Regions from separate parts of the Homo sapiens genome. Here region 1 is linked to region 2. The links come from fine-mapping of genetic effects on gene expression. A gene starts in region 2. The other region holds a variant in brackets. All regions are shown on one strand. Distances are between the middles of the regions.

What was found. PIP is the estimated chance that this variant, and not a neighbour inherited with it, causes the effect.
Region 1: its variant is fine-mapped to the expression of MYOM3 in unexposed skin (GTEx, PIP above 0.99). The same link has a PIP of 0.9 or more in sun-exposed skin.

Annotation. Positions count from the first base shown.
Region 1 is chr1:24,083,612-24,095,199 of GRCh38, forward strand. MYOM3 (myomesin 3) reads right to left here. Exons shown (of 37, transcript NM_152372.4): 9 at 11,242-11,379; 10 at 9,336-9,497; 11 at 8,563-8,704; 12 at 7,186-7,385; 13 at 6,454-6,507; 14 at 5,927-6,054; 15 at 3,033-3,216; 16 at 857-1,028. Among named protein-coding and RNA genes, the nearest start is that of MYOM3-AS1, 23 kb to the left of the region's middle. RefSeq lists an enhancer at 9,368-10,031. The variant T/C (reference allele first, on the strand shown) is at 6,527.
Region 2 is chr1:24,106,809-24,118,396 of GRCh38, forward strand. It overlaps MYOM3 (myomesin 3), which reads right to left and starts at 5,327. Exons shown (of 37, transcript NM_152372.4): 1 at 5,223-5,327; 2 at 1,668-1,846; 3 at 1,185-1,265; 4 at 265-424. The coding sequence starts at 1,828. RefSeq lists enhancers at 300-840, 5,529-6,037.

The DNA of each region.
Region 1 (11,588 bases), 23 kb before region 2:
GAAAGGGTGAGGGGTGGTATGGAGCCTGAACTCAGGCCTCCCTGGCTCCAAAGCTCTCCACTGCTCTGCCCTCCCCACCTCTCTCTGGGTTTAAGCTCCTGGAGGGATGAGACCAAGGCATGGTCATCTCTATCCATGGAGTCCTGCAAATAGCACATTCTCAACAAAGTTTGTTGAAAAAGACCATCTGGGTTCAAGTCCCAGTCCTGCCATTTACTAAGCTACAAGGGGCTTTGGCAAGTTATGTAACCTCTCCATGCCTCAGTTTCTTCATCTGTAAAATAATAAAAATAATAGTCCTACACATTTAGGCTTGCAGGTAGAACTAGATGACCTCACATATGAAAAATGCCAGAACAGTACCTGGCGCAGGGTAAATATTGTGAAATGCTGGGCTTCATTATCATTATGGCCCCCTTTCAAGGATGCCTGGTGCAGGAAGAGGGGTGATCTGGTTTGGCTCTGTACTCCCACTCAAATCTCATGTTGAATTGTAATCCCCAGTGTTGGGGGAGGGACCTCGTGGGAGGAGATTGGATCATGGGGGCGGATGTCCGCTTTGCTGTTGTCAAGATAGGGAGCAAGTTCTCATGAGATCTGCTTGTTTGGAAGTGTGTAGCACTTCCTGCTTTGCTCTTTCTCCCTCTCCTGCTCCCGCCATGTAAGACATGCTTCCTTCCCCCTCGCCTTCCGCCATAATCATAAGTTTCCTGAGGCCTCCCCAGAAAAAGAAGCCTGTATAGGTCGCAGAACTGTGAGCTGATTAAACCTCTTTTCTTTATAAAAGAAATTACCCAGTCTCAGGTATGTCTTTATAGCAGTGTGAGAACAGACTGATACGGGTGGGCAGACGTACCTGGTGCCTTGGATGGGTTTGTTGTTAACTGTTTGCCACTCAGATGTCCCCACCTTCCGGGAGTAGATGTAATAACCCAGGAGCTCTGGGTCTTTCACAGGATCCCATGTCAGGGAGACAGAGGTCTGTGTGTCTCTGAAAGCTTGAACTTGAGCTGGAGGAGGGAGGGTAGCTAAAAAATAGAAACATGGGCTGAATGAGAAGGCTGAGTTACATGGGTCTGACAGGCTGGGGAAGGGGAGGAGCATGGGGAGAGGCCAGAAGGAGCTCCCACAGCAATCAAGGTGCATGAATTCCTGACCTGCTGGGGGCTTTGGGACCTCTTCCCTAGGCCCAGAAGTGTATCCTAAAAGTCCTCTCTCCCCTTACCTCTGAGCATCTCTGCTTCCTCACTAAAGCACAAAAGCATACTCACTCATTCATCCTTACACACACACACTCTCTCTCACTCAAAAGTCACCAAATCTGATAGGTTTCCTCAGTCCTTATCTTTAATCTCAGTTTTCTTTCCTTGAAATTTCTCTACTGATTTTCATGGCTCCCTGAAACTAAGCTTTTTGAGATAGGGGCTGCTGTAACTTGTTAAATGGATGGATGGATGGTTGGTTGAATGAATGGATGGATGGATGGTTGGTTGGATGAATGGATGGATGGATGGATGGATGGATGGATGGACAGATGGATGCATGGACAGGTGGATACATGGATGAATAAATGGATGGATGGATGGATGGATAGATGGATGGATGAATGGATGGATGGATGGACAGGTGGATTCATGGATGAATAAATGGATGCATGGATGGATGGATAGATGGATGGATGGATGGATGGATGGATGGATGGATGGATGGACAGGTGGATACATGGATGAATAAATGGATAGATGGATGGATAGATGGATGAATAGATGGATAGATGGACTGATGGGCAGATGCATGGATGGACTGATGGATGGCAGGTGCATGATCTTCCTAGTTCTCTTTTTATTTCTAAACTCCTTACACATCCTTTGGTTGTTCTCTATTTTCTTTTGGCCCCCAAACGTTGGACTCATCCAAGCTTCTGTTCCTTGACCTGCTCCACTTTTTCTCCTCTCTTCTTATTCCTAAGGGTCCTGCCTATCCCAGGTCTTCATCCCTCACCTGTTTGAAGGCTTCACCTCTAGCCCTGCCCTCCCTTCCTTTCTGAATTATACCAGAGCCTTGCCTGGTACAATTTAAGTGTGGTTTATGGTCCAGAGACTGCCCACATCTGATGACTAATTGCTCACTGGCCAGGCCCCAAATCAAATCCAAATGTTAACCAGAAGTAAAGAAAAGCACCACTTGCTCACCAACTTGTTCATATGTGCCGTGTGTGTATGTGTGTGTGTGTGTGCGCGTGTGTATTTTTTCCCCTCTAAATTATTGAAGCAGAACAAATCTAGAACTTTGAAATCTTCCCCAAATGGGACCTTCAGCAAACCAGGCTTTTCTTGCATAGGTGGTACTGTAGCAAGGTTCCTTAAAGGGCTGATTGTGATGGCAGCTACGGGGAATCTGATGAGAGGGTAAAGAACCTCAGAATCCAGAGGCCTCAGAGGTGGGAGCCCTGGGAAGCTGGGGTCAGGATGCAGTTGCAGTTGGGAGACTCAGGAAGGAGCCAGAGGTGGGAGCAGTGATGGGGCCCTTTAGAACAATGGGTTTGCCAGTTGAGGACAGCAAGGTGTGCAGCTTGGAAATGACTCTCCCAGGTCCCCCGTTATGCTGCAGGTGAGTGGTGTCCTGCCTGGTAAGCCAGGGCTCAGGTGGGACAGCTCAACCCCCACCAGACAAGGAGCAGGGGGCTGCTTGGGAGTGAGCTGCAGGATCTAGGGGCAGGCCAGAGACCTGTGGAACGGAGGGACCAGTTGCTTGCACAGCTGCTGTGCAGGGCCCAGCTGTGCACTCTAACCCATGCATTGCTGATCTGGAAAAAGGCAGAAGGCTCTCTCCCTCCATGAGCCTTCTGCCCAGAGAAATGTGATTTCTGATGTCTTAAAACTCCCCAGGCCTGAGATCAAATTGCTTTTCAGCTTCATGATGGGTAGAAGGGAGCGGGGACAGGGAAGTGGGCAGGGCTTTGTCCCTGCAGCTTCAGGTCCTGAGCCTGGCCTGGCCTGCCTCCTCCCCGACCCCCGGCATCAGGAGGGTACCTGGCGGGCCCCGCAAGGCGATGGGTTCGCTGGGCTCCGAGGGATCGCTCAGGCCATACTGGTTCATTGCTCGCACTCTGAAGACATACGACTTCTTTTTCTCCAGGTCCAGAACGGCGAATCTCGGGGATCTCACAGGGCTTTCCGAGCTGATGGCCTCCCAGGTGCCACTACCTATGACTGACTGAAGAAACAGAGGGACTCACATTGGCTAACTGGTCGCCCAGACCGGCTCTGTGCTGGTCACCTCCCATGATCTCTGTCCCCAGCCCGTGTGCTCTCATGATCCTCTATACTCAGCCCAGGCTGCCCCTGAGCATGGGGCTCTGCCCCATCTGCCTCCTCACCTCTCCACCCGGATTCCTACCGAGACCTCACGTCCAGCCTGTCCACAACGCGGCTCCAGAGCTTCCCACACCTGCATTGCACTGGTGGCCCCCATCCTTCCAGTCCCTCGGGTGAAACCCCTGGAGCCACCCTTGGCCCTTCCTCTCTTTGTCTCATGCCCTAAATGTGCTCCATGAATGAACCCAGTTGGCTCACCCTTCAAAATTTACCCAGAAACCAGCCATGCCTTATTGTCCTCATGCTCCCCACCATAACCTTGATGCAGGCTGCCAGCACCCCGCACCTGAACGATCTCAATGGCCTCTTGACTGGTCTCCCCTCCATTTCTACCTATAACCCCCTTCCGTCTTGTCTCAAATGGCCATCAGGGGGATCCTTTTATAGCACGTGTCAGACCAGGTCCCTGTCTGCCCAGAACCCTCCCACGTCCCGCATCTCCCTCAGAGCAAAAGCTTCCCCATCGCCTGACCCCTCGGCCTGTCTGGCCACCGTTCCCTCTGCCCTTAGTCTCTGTGCCTCTCTGCTGTTTCCTGAGGGTCCAAGTCCCACCTCTGGGCCTTTGCACTTGCTGGTCCCTCAGCCTGGAATGTTCTTCTCCGAGAAATCTCTTGGCTTCCTGTAGGCCTTTAATAAAAATCCACCTTCCTGGGCAGTGGGGAGGCCATCCCAGCCACTCCATCTAAAAATGTCAGCAGCTCCTCTCCCCACACTTCAAGTTCCCCTCCCTGCTCAATGTCTTTCTCCTTAGCGCCTACCACTCACTACTGTGCTTAATATTCTACTGATTTACTCCATTTATCATTGGCACCCCCTCCCCTGACTGCCGTGTCCCTAGGGCCAAGAACAGGACTGGCACATAGCAGGTGCTCCATCTATGTTTCTGGGACAAATGAATGAACAAATGAATGAATTCTCACAATAACCCTGCAGGAAGGTGTTAATTTCTCTGCCGATGAGGAAAGTCAGGTTCAGAGAGTTTCGGTAACTTGGCCAAAAGTCCTGCATCTAATAACTGGTGGATATAGTATTAAACTTCACTCAGGTGTGGTTGGCTGCGAACCTGTTTACTCTCCACAGCATCAGGGACCCAGAAGGCAGCCAGAAACCCCGAGTCTCTGGGCAGATGGAGGGTGGAGAGCCCAGGGTGAGACAGATGAGTGAGGTACCCAGAGACCCTTTCTGCTGAGTCTGGGCAAGAGAGTTAAGACCTAGAAGCACAAGGGGACCCACTGATTCCACGCTCTGTGGTTTTCCCCCCACAAGCCCATCTGGCTGTCAGTGGCCTAGACCAGGTAGGACAAGAAATTGCCATAAGAAACCATGAACACTGCTGAGCTCCTACTGTGTGCCAGGCTCCATTCTAAGTCTTTATGTGCGCTAATTAATTTGATCCTCACATTAACCCTACAAGCTGTGTATGATTATTATCATTTTATGGAAGAAGAAACAGAGGCACAGAGAAACTAAGTAACTTGCCCAAGGTCACGCAGCTGGTAAGTAGCAGAGATAGAATTTGAACCCAAGCAGTCTGACGCCAACATCTTCACCATGATACACTACCACCTTGTGAAACAAATCCTCAATTATCTACAGCTTTCCTATGTCGGAGAAAAAGGATTACCCATGAGTGTGAAAAGAGAGGCCTGTTTGGATAATCAGAGCCAGAGATTCCTCCCTGGAAATTTTAAATTCATTTATTCCCTAAACATTTTCTGTCCACCTAGTTTGTGCCAGGCATTGTGCTGGGCACAGAAAGTAATGAGAAGATAAACTTAGTCTCTGACTTCAGGGAGATAGTCAAGAACACCTCCTTGGGAAGCACTGACAGATCCCAGGGGTTGCTGGCTTTGGCTGTGGGCTGTGTTTTATTTCATCTTCACAGGGCAGGTTCTCTATTCTATGCTGGAGGAAACTGAGGCTCAGAGAGTTTAGGACACTCACTCAGGATCACACAGCACAAGGAAGGATTTGAATAGATTTTGACACCATGCTGTCTTCTACTCTGCCATACTGCCCCCCCTCCACTGTGAAGTTCACTCCACAAGACCTGCCTCATCCCCGCCGGGGTCTCCCCTGCCCCCACTCCCCAGTGAGAGCCACCTCCTAGTGCTAATCACACCATAGGCTCTGCAAGTGCTGCTGGTGCCTGTCCCTGGCTGGAGGGTACCAGCCTTGTTTCCCTCCCAACATAGTCCCACCAAGAAGTGCTTGGCCCCAATGTGTGGTCTGATGCCATCTGGCTTGGGGGCAGGGAGGTACCCAGGAAGTGGTGGATCGTATTGTCATTGTTGTCTGTGTCTTGTATTTTGTGTATTTCCACGAACAGCCTCAGGAACGACCAGCAGTGACTGGCTTCCAGGGCTAGAGGTAGCTGCAAAAGGCTATTCAATCCATCCCCTTGCCTCTGTGTAGGGCCATGCCTGGGCCCTTCTGGCCAGGGGATTCTCTTTCATTCTCTGACGGCCTCCCCAGGGGACACTGCCCAGGGTCCCACAGCACATCTGTTTCTCAGGCTGGCCTGGGGCTGGGGCCTCGGGGTTCCCTACCTTCTCCAGGGAGTACGTCAGTGGTGCTCTGTCCCGGGGGCTGGGCTCCTCCCAGGCCAGAACCACATAGGCCTCTCGGATCTCGCTGGCATGGACATTGGTTGGCGGTGAGGGGATGGTCACAGTATCTGAAATCAGAGTCACCCGGGACCGAGATGGTTGGACCCTCAGAGACCCCCTAATCTCAGTGCCTCATTCCATGGAAGAGGGAACTACACCCCTACCCATCCCCCAGAGAGGGGCAGTAGTTGGCTCCAGGTCACTCAGCAATGCTGGGCAGAGCCGGGGCTAGAACCCAGGTCTCCCACTGCTCTGGCCAGGACTTTTCCCAATGTGTTCCCTCCTCCAGGAGGGCCACAGCCAGATGGGCCACAGTGACCCCAGCACTCTGACTGCCTCCAACTAGGCCCCACCTGCCCTCATCCCCCACACCCTGCACTGGGACAGCTTCTGCCTCTTTGCCAGCTCATGTCCCAGAGTTTTGAGAACTATACAGGAGGCCCAGTGTGTGGGAGGATCCCGCGTACCTTCAAAAGCGTCTGTGCTGATGGTGATCTTGTTTCCCAGATCAAAGGGGATCTCTAGGATGAGAAGGGAGCA[T/C]GGGAGGGTGGGGGGTGGCACAGGAGGAGTTAGGCCAGGAGCTACCCCACACCAGGGTCTGCGTCCTGCCCCGTCCCAGTCCTGGCCTTGCAGCCCTCGCTGTGCAACCTCAGACAGGTGCCCTCCCTCTGGCCTCAGCTTTCTCAGGAGTCCCAAGTGGAGCCCTGCTGCTCTCAGGCCCTGGCACATGCTCTTCCTCTTGGGACAAGTGGAGACAGAGAGGAGGAGGGAGGTGCCTGGCGCTGGGCACCCTGCCACGGTGGAGCTTCTAGCACACCCAAGTCAGCGTGGCTCCCGAGGGCTGAGAGGAGGCCGTGTCCCCGCACTCGAGCTTAAGGACATCTGACAGGTGCTGGGGTAGGGTGCTCCCTCAGACTGGTCTCTCCCATGGACAGGTTTGGTTTCTCCCATTAGACTAGCTGTATCTTCCTTCTCAGGCTAGGGGTTCCTAAGGACCGGATTGTGTCTCCTCCATCAGACTGGAAGTTCTCGAGGGCTGGCCTTTGTCTCCTTCATCAGACTAGTGTTTACTGAGGGCTGGGCTGTGCTTCCTCCACCAGACTCGGGGCTCCTGAGGGCTGGATTGTCTCCTGTGTGAGACAGTCCTGAGGGTTCCCTGACTGATGTTCTAGAAAGTCGCTTAGGACCTCTGTACCCACCTGTCTTCCTCCGGGCTGCATCATGGTCACCCATGACAACCAACTCTGAGGCCTTGGAGGGGACGCTGCTGCCTACCCTGCTGATGGCTCTCACCCGGAACCGATAGCTCTGACCTTCGACGAGGCCTTGGATTGGGCACCGACAAGTCCCTCCGGGGGCCTCATGGCAGGCGATCCATTCCCCAGACTCGCCCTGGCACCTGTTGGAGACAGGCCCCCCCTTTCAGCCCCTGCCCACAATGCACACCTTCCCAATGTGAGCCTCTACAAGGGCCTTTCTCTGACTGGGGGAGCCTGCCCAGCTCATCTCTGCCAATTAAAGTTCTTCTCTCCAATGGAAGAGCCTGGCTCCAACCTCGGGCCCCCGGGAGACCTTTTCACCATCCCTGACACTGACCAGCAGCAGTGCCTTTCATGGGGCATCATCGTGAGCCTGTGACTGTGCTGTGCCCTCCACACCCAGCCCTCGTTTTATCTCCCTGGCAGTCCTAGGGGGCACGTGTGGTCACCTTCACTGCACACATGGAGGATCTGTGGCTCAGAGAGTGACAAGACCTGCCCAAGGTCACACAGTTAGGATTTACCTGAGCTTGTCCCCTCCCTAAGTTGGCATGCATTCCAGGTTGACCCTCCAAGCCTGGGCTCTCTGTACCCTCTTGGTACCATTGTTCCAGGCAGTACGACAGTGCACGTTACCCTTATTGTTACCAGCTGGTTGAGGTAGTCGTCACATGTGGGTCCAAGTCTTGTCTCCACCACTAATGACAAATGTGTCTTTGAGCAAAGTCATCTCCCCACATACTTTGGTTTCCCCATCTATAGAAGAGGGCATTAGATAGTCCCCCTCCCCTTTAGAGACGGGTCATTGGAAGGATGGAAAGAGATGAGGCATGCCCTTAGCACGGTCATGAGCCTGTCCGTGGCAGCATTAGCTATTTTCTCAAGCTGGGCCTTCAGAGCCGGCCACACTGGAAAAAGGCCGGAGGTTCTGGCCTCTCTACCTGTTTGCCTCCTCCCTTGGGGTCAGTGCTATTCCATCTCTCTCTGTCATTAGGAAGGAAACTAGCCCACGAATTCACTGTGCTCAGGGTTCAAGCACTCCCCGTTTTGCCCCTCTGGGTCAGCTCTAGAGGGTCCACAGGGCAGTGGCCGACTCCAGCATAGAATTCCAGTTATCAGCATGACAAAGACTTGGAGGTGTGGATGCCCCTCCATTGCCCCTAAATGACACAGCACAGCCTGTCTCCTGTCCTTTTCTGAGGAGCGGGGGTGTGAGGGTTCTCTGAGGTCAGACATGGGGCCTCCTCTTTGCTGTGGCTCCCACCACCAGACAGAATTCTACCCCTAGGGCCTCTGCCACTCACGAGGTCGACTCACCGCTCAATGGTGTAGGCAGTGATGGGGTTGCCCCGGGTGTCACTGGGCGGGGCCCAAGTCAGGATGAGGCAGTCTCTGTTCACATCCAGGCATCGGACGTTCAGTGGGGAGCCTGGGGCCCCGGGGTTCTCGGCCTCGGCATCTGAAACCCGGGGGTGAGAGGGAGGCCCTTCTAGTCAGTGGCCATTTGGTGACAGGCCCTTCCCACTCCCGCCCAGCATCCTCTTCTCATCCATCCTCCAGGGGCTCAGTTTTGATCTTGAGGACTGGGGCCTGAATATTAGTCCCACTACCCCCATAGCAGTATCTGAGGGAAGGATGACAGTACCATTTCTTGGGGGCCCATTTTACACCAAGTACCTGAACAAGTGGAATAATTAATTCCAGCCCCAGAGCAGCCTTCCCCTCTTTGGATGGGGAAACTGAGTCTCCTGGAGGTGAGTGAGTGACCTGCCCAAAGTCACCCAGCTGGTGAAGTGACAAAGCCAGGATGTGAACCCAGGCCCTAAGCAGTGGCCAGAATCACTCCAGCCCCACACTCAGCTCCCAGCCTCCCTGGCTCCAGCCAGGCTAACTCTCGGGCCATGTCCCTTTGGAGGGTCATAGGATGCCACGGGGAGTCTTGGAGACCCCAACCCAAAGCCCTGATTTTATGGTAGAGAAATTGAGGCCCCAAGAGAGCAGGGTCCTTGCCTAAGGTTCCACAGCAAACAAGGGGCAGAGCCCTGGTCTCTGGGCTCCTGCTGCTACCCTGCGCCCACCCATGCCCTCACCTCTCACAAGCACGTAGGTGCTCTGTTCCCGGGGTCCGAAGGGCGAGGGCACCCGGACCATGTAGAGCCCCTCGTCCTCCTTGTAGGTGCAGGACACCTTCAGGGATGCCTGGCGGTCTGTGTAGAGGATCTTCCGACGTCTCGAGGACCTCAGTAGGCTCCCTGTGGAGGGGAAGTGGGGGGCCATTGAGTTTGTGGGGGGTCCTGGTCTCACCTGGGAACCACAGAAACTGGGGGGTCTGGAGACCCTGGCTGGGCAGAGAGAGAGGCTGGTGAGGCTCAGCTCAGGCCTTGGGTGGGGGTGGTGGCCTCCAGGGCTTTGCCAAGGCAGGCAGTGGAGAACTCTCCTTTGCAGAGGGCTTGGGGAGTAGGGAAGGGCCAGTGCGGGGCTGGGGCTCAATGAGGGAGTGAGGGTTTAGGGACATAGCCAGTGACAAGGTGAGGAGTTGTAGGTTCTCTGAGGGAGTAGGAGCAAGAGAGATGGGTCCCTGTATGGGGTCAGGGGACTCAAAGAAGGAGGGCCCGTTTGGGGGAGGTGGGAGCTCAGTAAAGGGCCTGGGTCTCACTGAGAGAGCTGGGGCCTCGGTGAGGCGGGTGGAGGACGTGTCGTGGGGTCAGGGGTCAGGTAAGGGAGTGAGGGCTCTCGGGATGGGAGCTTAGGAGGTGGATGGGGACTCAGAAGTGGAGTCCAGGGCTCAGGGGCGGGCCCTGCCTTGAGGCCACACTGTGGGGCCAGCTCTTCTCTTTGCCCCATGTGAAGGATCCGCCCTCCATTCAGCACCTCCATTCTGGAAGATCTACACGTTTGGGAAGACGTCTCAGCCTTGTTATTGCAGCTGTCAGGGATCCTGATGGCTCCCATACTCCCTGCTCCCAGCAGGTGCAGCCTCCCTGGGCTCAGAGCTGGGGGTGCCAGAGGGGCACTGTACTCTGGGTCCTTAGGCTATAGGCCTAGTCATGGATTGGGTAGGAGGTCCAGCCGTCGTCCTCCTCCCTCACTGGGCCACGTCTTCCTGCCTTGGCTCTGACCAGGCTTCTCAAGGCCTCGCCTGAGACATCCCCAGAGGCCTCCCAGCCCACGGGTCAGCAACTGTATCTGCACCACCACCCTGACTCTGCAAAGTCCGATGCAACTGTTGCAGCCTGCCCTGAGCACTTGTGGTGCCCTCCTGCCTCCCGATCTTGGGGCTCTGTTCCCATTGCTTTGAGTGCCCTCACTCACTTTTTTTTTTTTTTTTTTTTGAGATGGAGTCTTGCTCTTGTCCCCCAGGCTGGAGTGCAATGGTGCCATCTCGGCTCACTGCGACCTCTGCCTCCTGGGTTCAAGCGATTCTCCTGCCTCAGCCTCCCGAGTAGCTAGATTACAGGCACCCACCAACATGCCTGGCTAATTTTTGGTATTTTTAGTAAAGATGGGGTTTTGCCATGTTGGCTAGACCTGAACTCTTGACCTCAGGTGATCCACCCACCTCAGCCTCCCAGAGTGCTAGGATTACAGGTGTGAGCCACCACGCCTGGCCTCCCTCCCTCACTCTTAGGGAGGTAATGATGCATGCAAATGGCTGAGCAGGTGCCTGGTCAGTGCCAGCGGCTACAATTGTGCTGATGGCTTCCTCCCTCCTCCCAGGTGGACACAGCCCCCTGGGCTCATGCACATCTGCCCCTACCATTTACCCCAGCCCTAACCCAGGGCCTGGCACCCCACAGATGCTTGGTGGCCATTTATGGGGTGGCATGATCTGACCACACCTGGCTGCACTCCCGCTCTCCTCTGCCTCTTCAGCACTTTAGCACAGTTGGTACTGGTTGGGGAGAGTCTCTGTCCGCTAGGGGTCCTCTCTGGCTCTGAGTTGAGCTTTGGAGGGGCCAGCTCTGGAGGCTGGGGGCCAGGACTGGGGGTCCTTACCATCTCGGAACCACTGGATGCTCTCAGCATCTAACACATCTTCCGAAAACAAGCATGACAGGGAGAAGGGTTCCTTCTCACGAGCAAAGACTGGCTTCAGCACCGAGGTGAATTCCACGCTGGGGCCAAACGTCGATCCTGGCGTGGGAATGAAATTTGGGGCAGAAGTTTTTGAGGCAGCCAGCCTGGCCTGGGACTTAGGAGTGAGGAAATTTCTGGGGCATCCCTTCTCTTCTGGGTCTTGACTAGGAGAAGGGGACCTGGCCTTGGGGTAGGAGGGGAAGAGACTTATCTAGGTAGTGGTCAGAGCAGCCAAAGAGCAAACATCCCAAGGCCAAGTCCGTTGG
Region 2 (11,588 bases):
TCCGCCTACCTCGGCCTCCCAAAGTGCTGGGGTTACAGGCGTGAGCCACTGCGCCCAGCCCAATTTTACAGATGAGAACACTGAGGCTCAGTAACAGGGATGCGCTTGCCCGGGGTCACACCACTGGAATGTAGGGGCATCAGATGCAGACCCAAAGCCTGGACTCTGCCCTGGATGTCCCGCCTCTTGGGAAGGGGGTGAGGATGGCAGCAAGTGGTGCGTCGCAGGTCCCAGGCCCTGGGGCTCCACGGCCCACCCCCTTACCCGCCGCCTCAGCGTCTTCCAGTCCCGCCTCTGGCGCAGCAGCCGGTGGGTCTGCAGGAAGGCGATCTCAGTCCTCTCCCAGTCATTGCCGAAGCCCACCCGCTTCTGCCCTCGCTCCTCCAGCTCCACGGCAGAGGTCTGGCGTCTCAGCTGGGCTTCCCTGCCGTGACAGAGGCCATCGGGGCTCAGGCAGGGATGGGGGATGCCTGGGGCATCCTGGCCAGTTCCATTCCCTGTGCCCAGCAGTGCCAGGATGCTTTAAACTTTTGGAGGACATGCATGATTTTGCATCTTCCCTTGCCTCCAAAACAGCCTGGAAGGGCCCTGCTTGCAGTCAGTCCTTAATAGTTGACTGTTTTCATTGTTTTCAAGGCTCTTTCACAAACCTTTGTTCATCTTGTTTTCACGACAGCCAAGTGGCCAGGCCTTAGTGTCCCTATTTTATAGGGCAGGGACTGAGGCTTAGCAACTTGCTTCAGGTCAGCCAGGACCACCACCCAAGCCTCCTAGCCCAGGGCCCTGCCCCAAGCCGAACGCTGCCTCTCCACGCCGGCACACTCAGAGGCCTCCTCAGTCTCTGGCCTTGTGGGAAACTGGGGCCTGGTTTACTTGCTCCTTCTGTCCCATTCTTAGCCCCCTCCCCCACCACGTGAAGCCCAGAAGTCTGTTGGTGAAGTAGGCCCCTACCCTCTTCCTTGGGAACAGTCCCCCGCTATGACACGTGCACCCTTCCAGAGGGTGGCATGTGGGCTTTGAGGGCAGGTAGCCCTGGGCTTAAACTCCTGTCTAGACCCTTATTCTAGATGTGGGATTTTGGGCAGGTTCTTTACACTCGGGGTGAAAGGCCAGCAGGGAGGCCGGGGACTGGACAGGATGGCCCCTCCTCAGCCACGGCTCCCTGGGAAGCTTCTCTGACTCACCAAGACAGCTCGGAGGAGGCCGTCAGAGCCAGGGCTGCTGCCAGGGCGTAGTCCGCGGCGCTGAACTCATGCTCTTCTTCGCTGCTCCCAGAAGGAGGGGAGTAAATGGCTCTTGCAGGATTGGCTGGGGGCTCCCTGAGATTAGGGCTGCATCTGCCCACCTCAGCCTCAGGGCACCAGCAGGCAGGGCTGTGCCTCCCTCCTCATACTGGGGTCTCAGAAAGCAAGGCTGCATCCCCCCGACCCTGAATGTGCTTCCCTCCTCAAACAGGGTTTCCAGAGGACAGGGCTGTGCCTCTTCCATCACATGGGGGTCTCCAGAGAGCCAATTGTGTCTCCCCCCTCAGACAGGGGGTTCAGAAAGCAGGGATGTCCCTCCCCCCATCAGGTTGGAGCCTCCAGAGGGCTAGGCTGGGCCTCCCTCCTCAGACTGGGGGCCCTGGGAACAGGGCAGTGGCTGGGCGGGGACCCTGTGGCTCCCACCTGCTGCGGAAGGTCCGCCTCCGCACAGAGGAGCCCATGCGCAGGCTGTGCTGCCGCTCCTCCTTCTGCTCCTCCTCCTGCCGGTGCTCCAGCCTGTGAACCTCCATGGCCTGGGGGGGCCGGGGGTCCCCCGCACCTCCCAAGCTGTGCGGCAGAGTCATGGTTACGAGAGCAACAACCTGTGAAGGCCAAGGTCCACGGTCATTCCACCAGGTGCCCGCCTATCCCCTCCCATGCAGTCTTCCCAACATCTCTAGGAGGCTGGCAGGATGGGGGGTGGGGGTGTCCTCTCTGCAGTCGGCAGACAGGGAAACTGAGGTCTGAGAGGGAGAGGGACCTGCCCAAGGTGACAGAGGCAGGCCTTGGGCTCTGAGCCAGGCTTCTCCTCCACCCCATGTGCTCCCCAGCTGAGTGAGCAGAGCCCCCACGTTAGGGAGCAGGGCCCTGGCTTCTAGCTGCTTCCAGCTGCAGCCCAGCCCTTGTCTCACTGTATGATCTGTGGCAAGGTTTTCGCTTCTATGGGCCTCAGCTCCCCAGACAATGAGTAATTGAAACTGTGATGTCCACGGCTGTGTCTATGACTCAGGACGGGCAGGCGTCCCCATTCTTCCTGCACCGGCCATGTTCAGTCCTACCTCTGGGCCTTTGCCCACGCTGGTTTCCTCTCCCGGCACACCCTTCCCCTCCTCCTGGCCCGCTTGGCTCTAGTCATGCTTCAAACCCCAACTGAGGGCATGCTAATTAGCAGAGAGACTCTGAGTCCAGCCCACAGGGTGTGATCCCAGCTCCTTATCCCAGCTTTCAAGTGTGTAACCTTGGGAAAGACTCATGACTTTGTTTCCTCATCTGTAAAATGGGTCTACTAACCTCCCAGGGTAGTTGTGAAGGTTAGATGAGTGCTTGGGGCTTAGTAAGTACAACATAAGTATTAGGCATTAGCATTATTTTTCTAAGAAGCCTTGCAGAAAGACTACAGGCCACCTAGAATTTTCCCTCTTCTCATTTCTTTTGTACTTATTTTCTAGCACTCCACAATTTAGCATTGATTCAGACAATGCTTTCTCTATGTAATTATTTTGTATCTGTGCATCTTGACTGTTCAACAAGACTGTAAGTGAATTAAAAGTAACAATAGTGAGAACTTACTATGTTCCATGCCCATGTTAGTTTTCAAATGCATTATCCCCAGTCCCTGCAATAACCCAAATGAGGACAGCACCATTATTATCCCATTTTACTGATGAACAGGGGCAGTACTTGCTCAAGGTCACCCAGCATGATGGTGGGGCCATGACTGGCAGCCAATCCCTAGCCCAACCCCTAGCCCTTCTGATCTCTATGTCATATGTCCATTCAAGGCCAGGCCGTGGCAGAGGCTGGGGACACGGTGGGCCACAGGGCCTTTCTCCTTATAAGGGGATTGCAATGTACACATCTCCTTTGCATTCCCAAGGCTCAAGTCTAGGCCCGTGATGGCGCCCAGTGGGGCCGGATCAGATTGACCCAGGGGAGGCTCAGGAAGCGGATCCATGGATATGGAGAGGCAAACGAGGGGTGTGGGAGGCCCGTGTGCCCGCTGGCTGTGGGTTTTTGCACTGAGTTTTCTCATATCCGGGCTTCAGTCACTGCTGGGTCTCTGAGGGCCCCCCTGATGCTAAAGCTAAAATCCCTGGAATGGCTTTCACACCTCCTCCAGGTGGGAATCCTGGTCTGCAGGCTTCTGGCATGGGAGGGTTCCTGCCCAGGCGTGGGGATGGAAACAGAAGAGGGATGACCGCCTGCCTTGGCCTGCTCCTGTCAGCTTCTGTGGGGTCAGCTCTGTCTGGCCCCTGCCTCTCTAGAGGGTCCTGCTGGAGGTGGCAGCGTGTGTGTGTGTGGGCGTGCATGTGTGTGTATGTGTGTGTGTGCGTGCATGTGTAGGCTGTCTTCTGCCTGGATGTGAACACAGCACCTAGGTGACCATTTCTCTAAGTCCATGGCATGGAAGGTGAGCCCACTGGCTTTATTGGAGAGCCGTTGGCCTGGAAGGGGCATGTGGTGGAGGTGTCTGGGGCTCGGGCTGTGGAGGGTCAGTCTTAGTGGGCTTTTACCCCTTCTACTTCCTAGAAGTTTGCTCCTTTTGGGTGTCTGCAGTTGTGGGCATCAGGAAAAAGAGAATGGATGGCTGCAGGGTTAGCTGGGACCAAGGGCTGCCCCCTAAAGCTCCCTGGGCTCCTGCTAATCATCTCAAATGACATAATGGGACAGTCACCCTCTTTGGCTTCGTATCACTCCCTCCCGATGGAAGAAGTTCTCTTTGCACCCAAAGAAGTGGCTAGCCCTGCTCATTCTGCTCTTTCTTCCTCATGGCCCAGGAGGAGAGCTGCTGGGTACCACCCTAGGTGGAGCAAGGACCCCCCACTCTGCCCCAGCTTTCCTGGGACACGATGGCCCTGGCTCCAGTGGCTGAGAGTTAACATTCCCTGGCACCAGCCACTGGCTCCCTTCCCCTGGATGCTCTGTTCCCGATTAGCACAGCAGGCAGGGGCCTGGCGCTCGTCCCTGACCTCGGGGCCTCCAGCAACCAGACCCCTGGCTTTAGCGGATGAGCTACCAATTCTTTTTAAAGCACTGACTGATGCGTGGTATTAAGCAGGGACAAGTTTGCGGCCTCACTGCCCTTTCCCAAAGGACCAGGGTGCCTCTTCCCGGAACACTGTGTGTGCCTGCGTGGAGGGGAAACTGCCCCCGCTTCCCTCTCTTGGGGTGCAAAAATCTGGGCCAGAGGTCCCACTGCGTGGCCTTCCCTATTCCCCTCTGCTTTCCTCCCAAGCCTCCATCTGCCGAGGAGGCCTCTCCCCTTCTTCAGGAGGGAAAGAGGAATGCACAGCAGTTGAGCCAAGACCCCTCCAGGAGCTGCGATGGGGGCGGATGGTGGCTGGGAGCAGAGACACATCCTGCGGGCGGCGGGTGGCACAGGCTGGGACGTGTTCTTAGCCAGTGGCTCCACCAGCTTCCGCGAGGCCGAATCCTGCCCTTGCCAGTCATGAGCTGAGGCAACTCCTTTCCCGTCTGGGCCTCGGTTTCCTGTCAGGCACTGGATGAAATCCCTTCCAGCTCTAAGATTTGGGATCCGAGGGCTCGCTCTCTTTCCCTGCCTGTGGGGTTGGCCAAGCCGGGCTCAGCCAGCTCCGCTCTAAGTTCGTGGAACTTGCCAGCTTAGCCTGGCTCCCGCTTATCGCTGCTCCATCACAGGAAAGACTCCAGTTCCCAGGGCAGCCCCCACTCTTTTTTTTTTTTTTGCAACTTTCACATCACAGACAGCTCAGCTCTCAGAAGACCCAGGGCCACACAGAACAGTGGGATGGGGCAGGGGTTTCTGGAATCCCCTCCCATTTTCACTTGGGTGCTGCCTCAGCACAAATTTCCCAGGCTCCTTTCACAACACACAACACACATACACACAAACACACACACGTGCACACACACACACACATGCACCCACAGATATCACTCCCCAGTGGCTGACTCTTAGGAGGCATCCCTCCCCCACCCTGATTTCTGGGGGTGACTCACAGAAGCAGTGTGCCCACTTAGGAGTCTCTGGGGAGAAGATTCCTGAGGCCGAGAGGGTCCTTGTTCTCTTCTTGCCCTCGGCTCAGCGGGCACCGGGAGAAGAATGCGATCCCGGAGACTGCACCGTCTTAAATATAGCAGCACTGAGACAGTACAATGACAATGGATGAGAACTATGGCATCGGGGACAGGGGGCCAAGGGGAGGGGCCATTCCGTGTCTCCAGCCTGCTGGGCAGCAGCGACAGGTGGAGCTGTCCGCCGCGTCCCCCCACACTGCTCCTCCTCTCAGCTGGGTCCTTTCTGCCCAACCCAAGCCCCTGTTAAAATGGAAAGGAGGGAACGGCTCAGGCATGGTCGTATGGAGGGCAGATCCCGTGCGGCGTTCTCAGCTGTCGGGAGTTCTGATCTGAATTCTGCCCCGGCTGACTGGGTGCCCTGGGGAAGGCGCTCAGCTTCCCTGAACTGACTGCCTTCTGAAAAACGGAGACAGTGAGACTGGGCACCTGGACTTCATGAAGACGGTGGAAGGAATATGACCTAAAAGTGAGTGTTTCGTGCTCAGAAGTTGTCACTGGCTAAAACAGCAATGTGTGGCTCCTGGTCCCTCCACCACTCCGGTAGTTACTACACGGCCCCCGCCCTGACCACAGTCATGTGTGTGTGGTGTGGTGCAGGCAGGAGGAGCTGGGGAGCCACCTACTGCTTCACTGTGCAAACTGCTCAGGCTGCCAGAGTGTCCCCTGAAGGGCCTTCTTATAGGGTAAACGCACCTGACAGGGATAACTGAAGCACGCTCCAAGAATGACCCTGTGTGGAAGACCTGAATATGTGTTCCGAGCTAAGGAATCTGGGGAGTAGCCAACCCGTTTCTTACCTACGATGAATATCTGAGCCCCCGTCCCGTCCCTTCTGGTGGAACGCTGGCCATACAGGGGATTGAGGCCCTGAGTTTTGGGTTAAATGAAGATTGCCAGGTGGAGGTCATTAGGGGATGGTGTAAAGTGAAAATGCTCTATAAACTGCATGCTGTTTGCAAGGGGCTGAGGTTTTCCTGCCCAGTCGGCCGCCACTGGTATGTTGTCCAGCCCGCCGCCCCTGGACCATTTCTGTATGTAAGGCGGTTCTCCTGTCCAGTTCATCACCAGTGGACTCTCTCTCCTGTAGGCAAGCCCCTAACAAACCCCCACGTTCCTTCCTTTCCTTCCTTCCCTTCCTTCTCTCCCTTTCTTTTTCTTTCTTTCTTTCTTTCTTTCTTTCTTTCTTTCTTTCTTTCTTTCTTTCTTTCTTTCTTTCTTTCTTTCTTTCTTCTTTCTCTTTCCTTCCTTCCTTCCTTCTTTCCTTCTTTCCCTCCCCCCCTCCTTCCTTCCTTCCTTCCTTCTCTCTCTCTTTCTTTCTTTCTTTCTTTCCTTCTTTCCTTCTTTCTTTCCTTCTTGAGTCAGAGTCTCACTTTGTTGTCCAGGCTGGAGTGCAGTGGCATGATCTCAGCTCACTGCAACCTCCGCCTCCTGAAACCCCCATGTTCCGTTTGCTGGCTATGGATCTTTTCTTTGGCCTCTCAAACCTGGTGCCTTCCCTACTGAGGTTAATAGGTGTTCGGCACCACACCTCTTCCCACCCTTTGCCCTCTCCTGCCATTCCCTCAGTCTCAATTCTTTCCCCCTCACATTCATTGGCACCTACCCTATGCCAGACCCTAACCTACAGGGGAAGTCAGGCACTTACGACAGGAGGTGATCAGGAAGGTGCACCTGGGTCGAGTCTCAGAGGATGAGCCGGTGAGGGGAAGGCTGTACCGGCCCCTAGCCAGAGAGCACAGCTTCCCTCCCTCACCCCTTCCTGCGACCTCAGGTGGCCACCCACACTACACCTGTCACTCTTGCTGGTGCCTCAGGGACTCCTCACTCGAGAGAAGGAGAGAGAGAGCACAAGTGAACTTTGCAGGCAAAATCTGAATCCCCTGCCCTATTTGAAAACCCCTTTCTAAGCTCTTCTGTGGCTCTCTCTTACAGCATCTTTTGGGAGAGAACATTTCTCTCCCATCTTCTATTGACCCAATCGAACAAGGGCTTTCCAAGACTCATCTTCATACATTTGCTGTGAGGGATGAGTGTGAGTGAATCCGTACGAACAGCAAAGAGGGCTTTGAGCTTCCAACTGAGCAGGAGACAGTCATTTAAACAGGTCCTCTAGCCCCGTCCTCCCAAGGCAATCTGGGGAGATGAATGAAGGTGCACTGGAGAGACAGGGTGCATCCTGGAGTCAAACCGGCTTAGGCTTTCAATTCAGTCCCACCACTTATTAGCTGGATGACCTTGGGGAAGGCACTCAGCCAGTGTGGTTTGATTATCTGTACAGTTGAAGACAACAATTTCCACTTAGCTGTCTCATTGAAAATGTTCAATCAGGCTGGGCATGGTGGCTCACACCTGTAATCCCATCACTTTGGGAGGCCGAGGCGGGTGGATCACCTGAGGTCAGGAGTTCGTGACCAGCCTGGCCAACATGGTGAAACCCCGTCTCTACTAAAAATACAAAAATTAGCTGGGTGTGGTGGGGGCGCGCCTGTAATCCCAGCTGCTTGGGAGGCTGAGGCAGGAGAATTGCTTGAACCCAGGAGGTGGACGTTGCAGTGAGCTGAGATGGCGCCATTGCACTCCAGCCTGGGTGACAGGAGTGAAACTTTGTCTCAAAAAGAAAAGAAAAAAAAAAAGAATAGAAAAGAAAAGAAAAGAAAATGTTCAACCAAGAACCGTGAAACCTCCAGCACGGCGTCTGGCCCCGGACAGACGTTTGCTAAATGAAAGCTCTAGGAATGCTGATGGCTTTCTCTTACCCCATGCTTCTGGGGGTGGGATTCCCATGTATCCCTTTGTTGACCTCACCCCAGTGAAGCACTCAGTCATCACTGGAACCTCTGTAAACATGGCCAAGCCTAAGGTCATGCGGCTGAGCAGAGAGATTAGATGACTTGATGTTATACAAGCCTTGGTTTAAATCCCAACCTCTGGTGCCTCAGTCACTAACAGGGGGACCTTGGCCTCCTTTCTGGGCCTCAGTTTCTTTCTCTGTAGGTGGAGGACACATTCCAAGATAGCAGAGAACTTGCCTGCCTGACCATATCCCTACCCCCGAGAACAGTGCTTGGCATACACCTGGCCCTCAATTCACATTTATTTACAAATGAATCAGTGGGCTGGGCGCAGTGGCTCACGCCTGTAATCCGAGCACTTTGGGAGGCCGAGGCAGGTGGATCATGAGGTCAGGAAATCGAGACCATCCTGGCTAACAAGGTGAAACCCTGTCTCTACTAAAAATACAAAAAATTAGCAGGTCGTGGTGGTGGGCTCCTGTAGTCCCAGCTACTCAGGAGGCTGAGTTAGGAGAATGGGGTGAACCCGGGAGGCAGAGCTTGCAGTGAGCTGAGATGGCGCCACTGCACTCCAGTCTGGGAGACCAGAGAGAGACTCCGTCTCAAAAAAAAAAAAAAAAAAGAAAAATGAATCAGTGAATGGTTACTGTCTTAGTTCGTTTGAGCTGCTACAACAAAATACATTAGACAGGGTCATTTATAAATAACAAAAGTTTATTTCTTACGGTTCTGGAGACCAAGAAGTTCAAGATCAACGTGCTAGCAGATTCAGTGTCTGGTGAGGACCTGCTCTCTGCATCATAGATGGTGCCTCTTGTGGAGTCCTCATGTGGTGGAAGGGGCTAGGGCACTCTCTTCAACCTCTTTTATAAGGGCATTAATCCCATTCCATTTTTATTTTTTTCCCCGAGACAGGATCTTGCTCTGTTGCCCAGACTGGAGTGCAGTGGTGCAGTCATGGCTCACTGCAGCCTCAACCTCTTGGGCTTAAGTGATCCTCCTACCTCAGCCTCCTGAGTAGCTGGGACTATAGGCACGCACCACCACACCAGGCTAATTTTTGCGTTTTTTGTAGAGACAGGGTCTCACTGTGATGCCCGGGCTGGTCTCAAACTCCTGGCCTCAAGGGATCTTCCCACCTTGGCCTCCCAAAGTGCTGGGATTACTGGCTTGAATCACCACCATGCTGGCCTCTTGATCCCATTATTGAGGGCATAGCCTTCATGGCCTTCCAAAGGGCTCACCTCTTGCTACTATTACATGAAGTTTCAACATATGAATTTTGGGGGGACTCCAACATTCAGACTATAGCAATTGCCTATCTTGCAGAATGGCTGGGAGACTCAGATAAGGTTAAATGTGTAAAATACCTACTATAGTACCTGGCTTATCTTTCTTCTTTCTCCCCTTGCCTTCTTTTCTCTTTTATTCCCTTCCCTGGACTTATGACCATTAAGAACAAACTGACTGCTCTGAACCTCCATGCTGTTTCTCCGACAGCAACCAAGCCTGTGGCTTTCTCCCCCTGTGTGGCGACACTGTACCTGCTTCAGTCTCCCGTCCCTCCCTGTCGCTCTCGGAGTCCAGTTAATTGCAACTGCTGTTCTTCTCATACGGACTGGCCAAAGCATATCTTCCTTACTCCCCCTTCCTCCTTAGAGTGGGAAGGAAAAATGGGCTCAAGTAGCCAAAGGAGCTGAGCAGCAGCTCTGGGGTCTCAGAGTTGTCTCATCAGCGTCAGCACCAGCAGGGGAGGTGGGGGCTGCCTCCATCTCTCTGGCAATACCTGCCTCAGCTTATTGTTTCTGTCCCATGGTCTGGAATGCAGGTGGGGACAGCGACAGGGGACAAGCATTGGTGACATCAGGCCATAGTCTCCCTGTCCAGGTTGACACTCAGACTTGGGAGGGACAGAGGCTCTGGCTGTCTGGAAATCTGGAGGAGCTCCAGTCCTGCTGGTCCAATTCTCTGGGTGGAAACTCAGGCAAGCCCTGTATGTTCCTAGAGTCGGGAGCTTGGGAGGTCAGAGGTTTGCAGGCATCACAGCCATGCAGTACCCCCACCCTCAACTCTGTTGCAACAGCGGGTGTAATGGGGGTCCCTCTAGGGCGCTGATTTGAGGCTATGGAGAGAGAAAGTGATGGTGTAACGGCACTGTTCCCTCAACTTGCTTCAGAGGAATCACCAAAGAAGTTTATGAAAAATGCAGATACCCCCCAGCACTTTGGGAGGCCAAGGTGGAGGATCACTTGGGTCCAGGAGTTTGAGGCTAGCCTGGTCAACAGGGTGAAACCTGTTGACAAAAATACAAAAAATACAAAAGTTAGCAGGCATGGCGGTGGGTGTTTGTAGTCCCAGCTACTTGGGAGGCTGAGGTGAGAGGATCACCTGAGCCAGGGAGGTGGAGGCTGCAGTGAGCTGTGATCATGCTACTGCAATCCAGCCTGGGTAACAAAGTGAGGCTCTGTCTCAAAAACAAACAACCAGATTCCTAGAAACTGTGAGTTTAGCAGGTCTGGGGTGGGCTTGGGGAAGCTGTATTTTTAGTAAGCTTCCCAGAGTATTTTCATGAACTAGGGCAAGTAATCTCTCTGAGACACATTTTCCTCCTTTGCGAAATATCAATAATACAACCTATCATGGAGAGAAGGGTACCAGGAGGATGAATGATCAAGTACATAACGGCCAAGCAACACGGTTGACTTCTTCTCTTTCATATGACTTTGACTACTGCTACTATTATATTACTAGTCATTTATTCCTGGGCTTGACTGTGCCATACCTTGTAGGCAAGTGAAAACTTGGAGAATCACCTCTCTTGCTGGGCAGGGTGGGGCTGTGGAGATTCCTGGAAATGGGATCGGACCCAGGACTCTCAGGAACGATGAGGTCCCCAGCCAGCTCCAGGGTATGCGGACGCTCTGCCTTCTGGCTGGTTCCAGCTCTATCTGCAGGCCTGGGCTGCCTGGGAGGCATGGGACCTCAGGGGTCATGCAGTCTGGTCCCCGCCCCTCAGTGCAGACAGGTCCAACCTGAGGAGGGGTGAGTCACAGACTCGAAGCCATCCATCCCTCTCTTCAGACACTCAGACTCCACCCTCCCAGAATCATTTCTGAAATGTTTGTCACCCGGAGGAGGGCAAAGAGCTTCGTGTTACTGTGAGTTGGAAGAGATATTTATGGCTTTTAATAAAACTTCTTTTTTGAGATGGAGTCTCGCTCTGTTGCCCAGGCTGGAGTGCAATGGCTGGATTTTGGCTCACTGCAAACCCCGCCACCCGGGTTCAAGTGATCCTCCTGCCTCAGCCTCCCAAGCAGCTGGGATTACAGGCGCCTGCCACCATGCCCAGCTAATTTTGTACTTTTAGTAGAGAGGGGGTCTCATGTTGGCCAGACTGGTCTGGAACTCCCAACCTCAGGTGATCCACCCACCTTGGCCTCCAAAAGTGCTGGGATTACAGGCGTGAGCCACTGCGCCTGGTCTTAATAAAAAACTT